2 linked regions of the Homo sapiens genome follow. The protein of the gene in region 2 purifies or fractionates together with the protein of the main gene of each other region. This does not show direct contact. Each region holds a gene or a part of one and is shown on either strand. Other genes may lie near its edges.

Region 1 (4,991 bases), on a different chromosome or scaffold from region 2:
TTTACCAGCATAGTGGATGATTGCATTTTTAAATGCATAAATTTCCTCAAACTTCTGTTTAGTTTCAAGTGAGAAAGCTGCCCCAAACCATAATTAGAAATTATTCTGACACCAAGATGGAAAGTGAATGTGCTGGAGGCTCTTCACATGGCAGCAGATTAACAGTTCTTGATAAATCATCACCGCCAACTAGTTAGAACAACTGCTCCTTTTCAGGATTTTTTTTTTATTGTTTTGACTCTTCTACATGGCCTTGGCAGTAACGTTTGGAAATTGATGTGTCCCAGAGACTGGGATGCATCCAATAATGTAGTCTCTTCCTGTGCAGCTGATCTTGAAAGCCTTGAAAATAAGGAACAAAATGACTAGGGAGTGACTTCTATTAGATACTATTAGCTGAAAATGAGCTTTCTGCAGAGATTCTTAGACTCATTAGAGAACCATTATAAGACTAAGAAGGCAGGGCTAGATCCCTTGTAATTCAGATATGCTGGAAAATTGCCTTTGCATGTATTTGAATTCTTATTAAGCTCAGATTTCTTCAAAATTAGTTTTTATTATAATAATGGTAGGTATCCATCCATTAATATAAACCACAAAAACAGAAAAATCTACTTACAACTTTTCAACAAACAGATTTACCTTCCACTGCCTTTGTGTCATAAGTAAATTGTTTGTGGCATCTTATGATTCTCAATATAAATTTGGAGGTGCATGTTTTAAAAATGAGTGCTAGTTATTAATTTTATGGGCTTTTGCTACTAAAATCTGTAACCATTTCAGAAAGCCTCATTTTTTGACTGGAGATCTGGATATGTGTAGTGTTCCTTCCTGCTTATCAAGGGAGTACCATAATTAAAGAGAAAATGACTAAAACCTTAATAAGAGAGAAAAAAGTTTCATTTATATCTTATACAGAACATAGTGCAGTATTTATTTCAGGTTGTCCATAAATATTTACTTACATAACTGAATCCTCTGAACTTCCATCAAAATATTCCCCTGACCTTTGAAGTTAGCTTCCATCACTTCCCCTAAACTGATATTAGATATTAAATCTGTCAGACATCTCAGGCTCATTTCATAAGCAGGGGCTTTTCATCTGAATGGACAAGCAGGCATAATCTCAAGCAACAAATCCCATTTTAAAATGTGTGTGTGGTGTCTGTAGTCCCAGCTACTCAGGAGGCTGAGGCAGGAGAATCACTTGAACCCAGGAGGTGGAGGTTGCAGTGAGATGAGATAGCACCACTGCACTCCAGCCTAGCAACAGAGCAAGACTCTGTCTAAAAAAAAAAAAAAAAAAAAAAAAGTGTGTGTGTAATGTCATCCTAGTTCACTTTGTCATTATCAAGTAATTTAATAATGTACATCATTTTCCTGAAGCTGATGCTGCTGAAGGAGCAGTAGCATCACATAGAAAGGAATAAATCACCAGACTTTAGACTTTTGTTGCTAAATGTTTAGATTATCCAAGCAACTATGACAAGAGGAATCAGCATGAAAAAGTACAAAGAAAAGTACAAACTAATACAGGGTTGGTTTAATTTTGTCCAACAAATCAGTGTGGACAAGAACCCGACTTAGTTTAGGTTAGCAAATTAAAAGGACTATATCATTTAAGCTGCTTTTGCAGCTGGATGGGCTTATAGGGGTAAGTTATCATTCCAGTGAAGATACATACATCAGCATTTTCCTCTGTTTGAATATGTGTAAGTAAACCTTTGCCTTTATTAAAAGACGTTTTGGGCTGGGTGTGGTGGCTCACGCCTGTAATCCCAGCACTTTGGGAGGCCAAGGTGGGCGGATCATGAGGTCAGGAGTTCAAAACCAGCCTGGCCAACATGGTGAAACCCCCATCTCTACTAAAAATACAAAAATTAGCTGGGCGTGCTGGCAGGCGCCTGTAGTCCCAGCTACTCGGGAGGCTGAGGCAGGACACTCACTCGAAACGAGAAGGCAGAGGTTGCAGTGAGCCAAGATCACGCCACAGCACTCCGGCCTGGGCAACAAGAGCGAAACTCCGTCTTCATCCTTTTGCCTTGATTCTGTCGTCATTATTTTGCTTAAGAAATATTAAAGTTTTCCAGTTTTTGTGTGGCATTAATTATGAGTGCCATGATTGCGTGAAAAATGACTGCTTTTGATAGTAAAGGGATAATAGTTGTGTTACTCATATCTGTTAGTACATTCAATAACTGTCTATTATGTCCAGGCTGAATGTTTGGTGCTGGGGAGATACAGATGAATTAGACACTTCCACTGCCCCTGAGGATGTCACAGTCCAGAGAGGGAGGCAGATCAGTGACAGACACTTGCAGAACACGGGGGCAGATTTTATGACAGACCTCAGCCCAGTGCCATGGAAGCTCAAGAAGATGTGTCTCACCCACACCAAGGCTTCCCAGAAGGAGCGATTATTGAGTGAGAATTAACCAGGGGAAGGCAGAGAAGAGCAACCTTCCAGATACAGAGAACAGGATGAGATAAGATGGGGGTAATAGTCCAGTGAAGATTAATTTTATTAATGTTGAGAAGATGTAGAATTGAGAAAAACTCACCCGTGCCCTCTCAGATCTTTTGAAATTTCAGATCCAATTCCAAGTTCACCAAAAGAAACAGGTACAGAACTGTATTACTTTGTTTTGGGTCTAGAGGGATTTGGCCACTTTGCACACTTCATTTCTAAGTGTACTTCCCTCTTACTCTTATCCACATGCTCCATAATGGTCTGGAACCCCTTCTAGGATTCCTGACTGGCACAGTTTGGGAACAATGTAGCCCACTCTGGAGTTGACTAAAGTCTACTTTAAGTCTGAAACTTAAACATTTCCTGAGTTTGCCATTTAGATTCTGGTAAGGCACTTTTTTGGTGGTGGAGGGTGGGGGGGTCCTGTAAGTTATCAGTATATTCTTTGCTGGGGGTTTTCCCCCTTGACCCATAATTTGTTACATGAGGGTGTATCAGGAAAACCTGTCATCTTGTAGTATGTAGTTATATACAGATGCTCCTCAACTTATAATGGAATTACATCCGGATAAACGTATCTTAAGTTGGCAATATCATAAATTGAAAATACACTTAATACTTGTAACCTACCGCACGTTGTAGCTCACGCTACACTACCTTAAACATGCTCAGAACATTTACATTAGCCTATAGTTAGACAAAATCATCTAACACAAAGCCTACTTTAAAATAAAGTATTGAATATCTCATGTAATTTATTGAATACTGTACTGAAAGTGAAAAACAGAATGGTTGTATGAGTACTCAAAGTATGGTTTCTACTGAATTCATATCACTTTTGCACCATTGTAAAGTCAAAAAATTGAAAGTTGAACCATCATAAATTAGGGACCATCTGTACATTACCCATGTCAATGACAAATAAGACAAAACTAATTTCTATTTGCTGTTGAAATTATTTTTATTCACAAATCTCTCCATCTTGACATTAGTCACCATTGAATCTCAAGTGCAGCGTAAACTGAGAATGCATCTATAATTATGGGTTGAATTTTGCATGAGCTACAGGAGGCAGCCAGGTGGGGATACCCACTGTCCTGGGGGCAGGAGACACTGGTTTTGATTTTTGCAGTGATATTAAGATCAAATAGCTGAGGGATTTTTTTTTTTTCTTTTTGGAACCCGGGTTGTAGGGGAGAGAAAGTGTAGGGTGGGAAAGAGATAAGAAGATGGGAGAAAGTGGATGGGGAGCTGATGATAACTTACATTTGTGAAATGGAATTGGAGTTTGATAAATAAAAAATACTGATTTTATTCAACCAAAGACATTATACTTTTTCTGCTTAATTAACTAATCATATGAACTCATGCCTTGTTAATGATAATCCATTATGAGATGCAGTTGAATTTGCTAAATCTATTTCAAAAGCTCTGCTTACTCAACCATTTATAGCACATTTGACAAGTAATTTTTTCTATAGAAGACTTTAAATAAAAACCATTGAAATAGTGTAAGATCCTAGACCCACATACTGTCTGCCATCACACATCACTTTCCTCAGTGTCTGTCAGTTGATGTTTTTGTGTGGTGAATGTGAACCAGTGGCCTGAAGAAATGGAGAGTAAATGGTGATGAGGTATTGCTGTAAGTTGTGTTTTCTGTTATAACTAAGTCTTGACTTACCCATGGTAATTCTTTCTTACAAACCTTCCATATATGTGTGCTGGTTTCTATTCCTGATGCTGAACTGTTAGTTTTCTAATATTTAACTTTTGGCTTCCAAAACTACATGAAGTTATTTTTCTAAAGAAAGACAAAAAAAAAGAAAAAGATACCTACTTAAAAGTAGCCTTCCTATAATTAGCTGTGTACACATGTTAGCCAAATAAGGTATAGATGTAGTCATTTTTAGCCTGAAATGATTGAAAAAGGTGAAATTAATGAATTAATCTTGGTGCAGTTTCAAAATAGTAATGGAAGAAAAACATAGCCATTTTATTCTTTTAATTATTTTTTTCAGTCATAAGGGAACCATCATTTCAGGAAGAAAGATTATTATTACTACAGTTTGGCTTTAGGTCATATTTTAGGCCATTTATGATGTAATCATATTTTCCAGCTCAAGAGTTTTGTGTGAAGAGATTTAGATCTAGTACTTTATTTTGAAATACCCAAACCATTTTTTAAATCTTGTTTTTGGAATTTTCTAACTTTCTGCATGCCATCCTAGTTCTCTGTCAGGGACCCTGGTTTTCCAGCTCCCTTTTCTCTGAAAAATACACAGTTGGGATGTTGAAGGGCCCTAGTCGAAAGGTTATTGATTTCTTCACTTTCGTCTTTTGTTACTCTCAAACTAAACATCATTAAGGCTTCGGCCTCCCTAATCTCTGAGTCTTCCCAAGTCACCCCAAATGTAGAAACAGTCCAATTATGACTAGAGCACAGCTTCAAGACAAGGTTTTTGTACCATTTTTTCCCCAATTGCTGCTCTCTACCCACTAGTGGGTCATGAAATCAATT
Region 2 (4,991 bases):
ACTACCAGTGCTCTTGGTAACATGTAGTCTAAGAGAACTTTTTTTTTTTCCAGTGCACTATAGCTGTGTAAAGTAATTGCACCTAAGAGAAAAATAGATTAAAAGATACAAAACATCATGCAGGACATGGTCAAGGAAAAAAGGAGACAAAATAGAGCATTGTAAATTTGCATTGTTTTAAAGTAGCTTTGAGAGAATTTTGAAAGATCTTGTTCTATGTAATCTGTCCCCTCCAAAAATTCTTTTTTTCTTTTTTACAGGTGTAAATTAATTATTTGAAAGCAACTGAACAATGGAGCCAGACATCATTCGAATGTACTCTTCATCCCCACCACCATTAGACAATGGAGCAGAGGATGATGATGATGATGAATTTGGGGAATTTGGTGGGTTTTCAGAAGTTAGCCCTTCTGGTGTAGGGTTTGTTGATTTCGATACACCAGATTATACTCGTCCCAAGGAAGAGTTTGTACCTTCAAACCATTTTATGCCAATTCATGAATTCTCAGAAAATGTAGATAGCCTTACAAGCTTTAAGTCCATTAAAAATGGTAATGATAAGGACATCACTGCTGAACTTTCTGCTCCTGTGAAAGGACAGTCTGATGTTTTACTTTCTACCACCAGCAAAGAAATAATTTCATCTGAAATGTTAGCTACTTCCATTGATGGCATGGAAAGACCAGGAAATTTAAATAAAGTAGTGGAGCAGAGACAGAATGTTGGAACACTTGAAAGTTTCTCTCCAGGAGATTTTAGAACTAATATGAATGTTGTTCATCAAAACAAGCAGTTAGAGAGCTGCAATGGTGAAAAGCCTCCTTGTCTGGAGATTCTAACAAATGGGTTTGCAGTGTTGGAAACTGTAAATCCTCAGGGAACAGATGATCTGGACAATGTAGCTGATTCAAAGGGACGGAAGCCTCTTAGCACTCATAGCACTGAGTATAATTTAGACTCTGTACCTAGTCCTGCTGAGGAATTTGCAGATTTTGCCACATTTTCCAAAAAGGAAAGGATACAATTAGAAGAAATAGAATGTGCAGTTTTAAATGATAGAGAAGCACTAACCATTCGGGAAAACAATAAAATTAATAGAGTCAATGAACTGAATTCTGTAAAAGAAGTGGCTTTGGGTAGAAGCTTGGATAACAAAGGAGACACTGATGGAGAGGATCAGGTTTGTGTTTCAGAAATAAGCATAGTGACTAACAGAGGTTTCAGTGTTGAAAAACAAGGCCTTCCAACACTGCAACAGGATGAATTTTTACAGTCAGGTGTTCAGTCAAAGGCTTGGAGTTTGGTAGACTCAGCTGATAATTCAGAAGCCATTAGGAGAGAACAATGTAAAACTGAAGAAAAACTTGACTTACTTACTTCTAAATGTGCTCACCTATGCATGGATTCTGTTAAAACTTCTGATGATGAAGTTGGTTCTCCCAAAGAAGAAAGTAGAAAGTTTACTAATTTCCAAAGCCCAAACATTGACCCCACAGAAGAAAATGATTTGGATGATTCTTTAAGTGTAAAAAATGGTGATAGTAGTAATGACTTTGTGACTTGCAATGATATCAATGAAGATGATTTTGGTGATTTTGGTGACTTTGGCTCTGCCAGTGGCTCAACTCCACCTTTTGTTACTGGTACTCAAGATTCAATGAGTGATGCCACTTTTGAAGAGTCTTCAGAGCACTTTCCACATTTTAGTGAACCAGGTGATGACTTTGGAGAATTTGGGGATATAAATGCTGTTTCTTGCCAAGAGGAGACAATATTAACAAAGTCAGACCTAAAACAGACTTCTGATAATTTATCAGAAGAATGTCAATTGGCAAGAAAATCTAGTGGAACAGGCACTGAACCTGTTGCAAAACTTAAAAATGGGCAAGAAGGTGAGATTGGACATTTTGATTCTGTGCCAAATATTCAGGATGACTGCAATGGTTTTCAAGACTCTGATGATTTTGCAGACTTCAGTTCAGCTGGTCCTAGCCAAGTTGTAGATTGGAATGCTTTTGAGGATGAACAAAAAGATAGTTGTTCTTGGGCTGCTTTTGGAGACCAGCAGGCTACTGAATCTCATCATCGAAAGGAAGCCTGGCAGTCACATAGGACAGATGAAAATATTGATACTCCAGGAACCCCCAAAACGCACAGTGTACCTTCAGCAACTTCCAAAGGAGCAGTTGCTAGTGGCCATTTACAGGAATCAGCCACTTCAGTTCAGGTATTTACTAATTTTCTCTATTTTGTATGATGTATTAATTGTTGTGGAGGCTTCTAATTTCAGCTTTTCAAAAAATATTTTTTCAACTGAGTACTTGTTAAAGGAGTCTCGTTATGATGTATAATGCCTGTCTGATTTGTGGGTTGGTTACATTTTTCACAACCCTTTGGGAAACTACAAATAGTCCTATAGTAAAGCGCAGTAAGATTTTTCTTTATCTCAATGAGTTTCGTTAATATTTACAGATACTCATCAACTTGGATTTTTTGGTGACTATAAATACCATATATGTTAAAAAAAAAAAAAAAAACCCACACTTATTACCTAATTGACGGTTCCAGTCAATCCTTCAGTATTACCCTTTACAGTGATTTTAAAAGAAGGTTAAACTGAGATTTGGATCTTTTTTTTTTTAAGCTTAAGAATAGAATGTTAATTTTTTCCATCAAAGACCTAGGAAATTCAAGTACGGTTTTGATTCCAGGAGAGAACAAGCAGAATTTGAAACCTCATTCTGTGCCAAAGGCTATAGTGAATTGAAGAACAGAAAAACAACTAGAAAAAAGCAAGTTTTTCTTTTTCCTCATAATTTAGCAGCTGCTAAAAGACTTGGGGTGAGGGTATGAGATGAATTAAGGTTTAGTCCTAAAATAAGAAATAACTATAGGTTCACTTATTGTAGTTGTATTTATTTGCCTATACTTTCTTACAAATGTACTTGTTAGCTCTTCCTAGAGAGTAGGTGTGTCAGGGAGAATATTTTTACCCCTTACCTCCTATACATTATCCTTTTTTGATTCAGACTCTTTCAGAAAAGATTCATTAAGATTCACTTTGACCTAAAGTAGCCCCTAGAGGTGTAGCTTGATATCTAGGTTGTTCCCCAGTCCAGAGTTCTACTCTGTGCTAAACTTTACCTTTTTTCAACTCCAGGGGTGTGGAAGAGGGCACTCCCTTGAACCTCACTGCCTTATACTGACAATTGATATATGTAACTAACACCTGATCCACAAGCTTATTTTAAATATACTGTTAATAAACTCAGAATCTACAAACTTTATTTCTCCAGTTATCTTCTGCTAAGAAAACCATTTTCAACTGGAAATCTTTCCAAAGTCTTTGTAATTGAAATACTTATATTTCATTGCCTTGATAACTTTGAGACAGTAAGATATTAGAGAAATTATGGTATTACCAGTTGGTGTGCATAGCTAATCGCTTTTTAGTTGGCTTTTGTGTCAAAGTAGTTTAATTTGCTAATTCAGTTATTACATGGTTTAGCTAATGTGTATTATTCCTATTGAGCAGTTCATTATTTAGGCAGAACCTTGCCATTTTAAACAAGAAGTGAACTAATTATGATGCTAAATGAGGACTGTTGCTTTTGACCTAACCCTTTCCCTATTTAGTTTCATCTCACTAGAGGATAGGGTGACACTGGTATTGGGTGATCTTTAATTTGTAGCCTTAGAACTTTTAACATCATCAGATAATGAATTTTTTAAAGTGTGACCACTCAAGTAGGAATTTCTTGCATCATACAAGTTGATTGAAGTTATTTATGTATAATTTGATAACTGGATATAGGAGATAATAAAGCGTATGGGCTTCATGGAATCTGACAGATCTGAGTTTGAATTTTGACCCAGCCTCTTAAAAAGCCTTATGATTTTTGGATAGGTTACTTCTGAATTCAGCTGTATATACAAAGAAGGTAATACCTACTTCAAAGAACTTTTGTGAATATAAAAGGAAATTTTAAAATGAGTGAAATAATCTGCTAGAAAATAAGAATTTTATAGTATGATTCTTTTTTTTATAAAAATAAAACAAACTATAGATGGGGCAAGATGCATTAAGAGTTTCTGAGACCAGGTGCAGTGGCTCATGCCTGTAATCACAGCACTTTGGGAGGCTGAAGTGGGTGGATCACTTGAGGTCAGGAGTTCTAGCCCTGCCTGGCCAACATGGTGAGACCCTGTCTCTACTAAAAATACAAAAATTAGCTGGGCGTGGTGACGTGCATCTGTAATCCCAGCTACTCAGGAGGCTGAGACAGGAGAATAACTTGAACCCAGCAGGTGGAGGTTGCAGTGAGCCGAGATCACACCACTGCATTTCAGGCTAGGCTACAGAGAGAGACTGTCACACACACACACACACACACACACACACACACACACACACACAAGACTTTCTTGGATTTGTTTGGCTAAGGCCTCATGCTTCTATTTTTGCTAATGGGTTATGGAAAATGAACAGAATTTGGATGTTGGGAAAGAGAAACTGCTGGAGGAGGCCAGAAGAAGTTTGGGAAGAAAGTTGAAGTAGTGAAATGGATAAACCCTGCTGAGTAAGTGACTGAGTCAGAAGTGGAGAAAGATTGAACAAAGACTCTCGTTCTTACCCTGCTGTTGTGAAAGAGAATTGCGGCTGGCACTTTATTTCTTGGGCTTCAGATTCTGCTAGAAGAGTGCATTAATTTAGCCCTTTTGGAGAGGATTAGATTTATTAGTATTTTTCTTAAAATGTTTTCCCTAGTTGCTCCGGACAGTGTTTGGAACAGCACGAATTCCTCACTTTTTTTTTTTTTTTGGAGACAGAATCTTGCTCTGTCACCCAGGCTGGAGTGCAGTGGCACGATCTCAGCTCACTGCAGCCTCCGCCTCCCGGGTTCAAGCAGTTCTCCTGCCTCAGCCTCCCTAGTAGCTGGGACTACAGGCCCATGCCACCACGCCCGGCTAATTTTTGTACTTTTATTGGA

Evidence for each region. Proteins that work in one complex are often made in the same cells at the same time.
Region 1: the proteins of AFTPH (region 2) and DDAH1 purify together in Homo sapiens (affinity purification with mass spectrometry; one large-scale study listed by BioGRID and IntAct). This does not show direct contact.

The regions. Positions count from the first base shown.
Region 1 is NC_000001.11:85,454,746-85,459,736, reverse strand, and holds part of DDAH1 (N(G),N(G)-dimethylarginine dimethylaminohydrolase 1), read left to right. Parts: intron 1-4,991. UniProt on the Homo sapiens protein: Hydrolyzes N(G),N(G)-dimethyl-L-arginine (ADMA) and N(G)-monomethyl-L-arginine (MMA) which act as inhibitors of NOS. Has therefore a role in the regulation of nitric oxide generation.
Region 2 is NC_000002.12:64,551,183-64,556,173, forward strand, and holds part of AFTPH (aftiphilin), read left to right. Parts: exon of another isoform or gene 1-82; intron 83-260; 5' UTR 261-292; coding exon 293-2,227; intron 2,228-4,991. UniProt on the Homo sapiens protein: Component of clathrin-coated vesicles.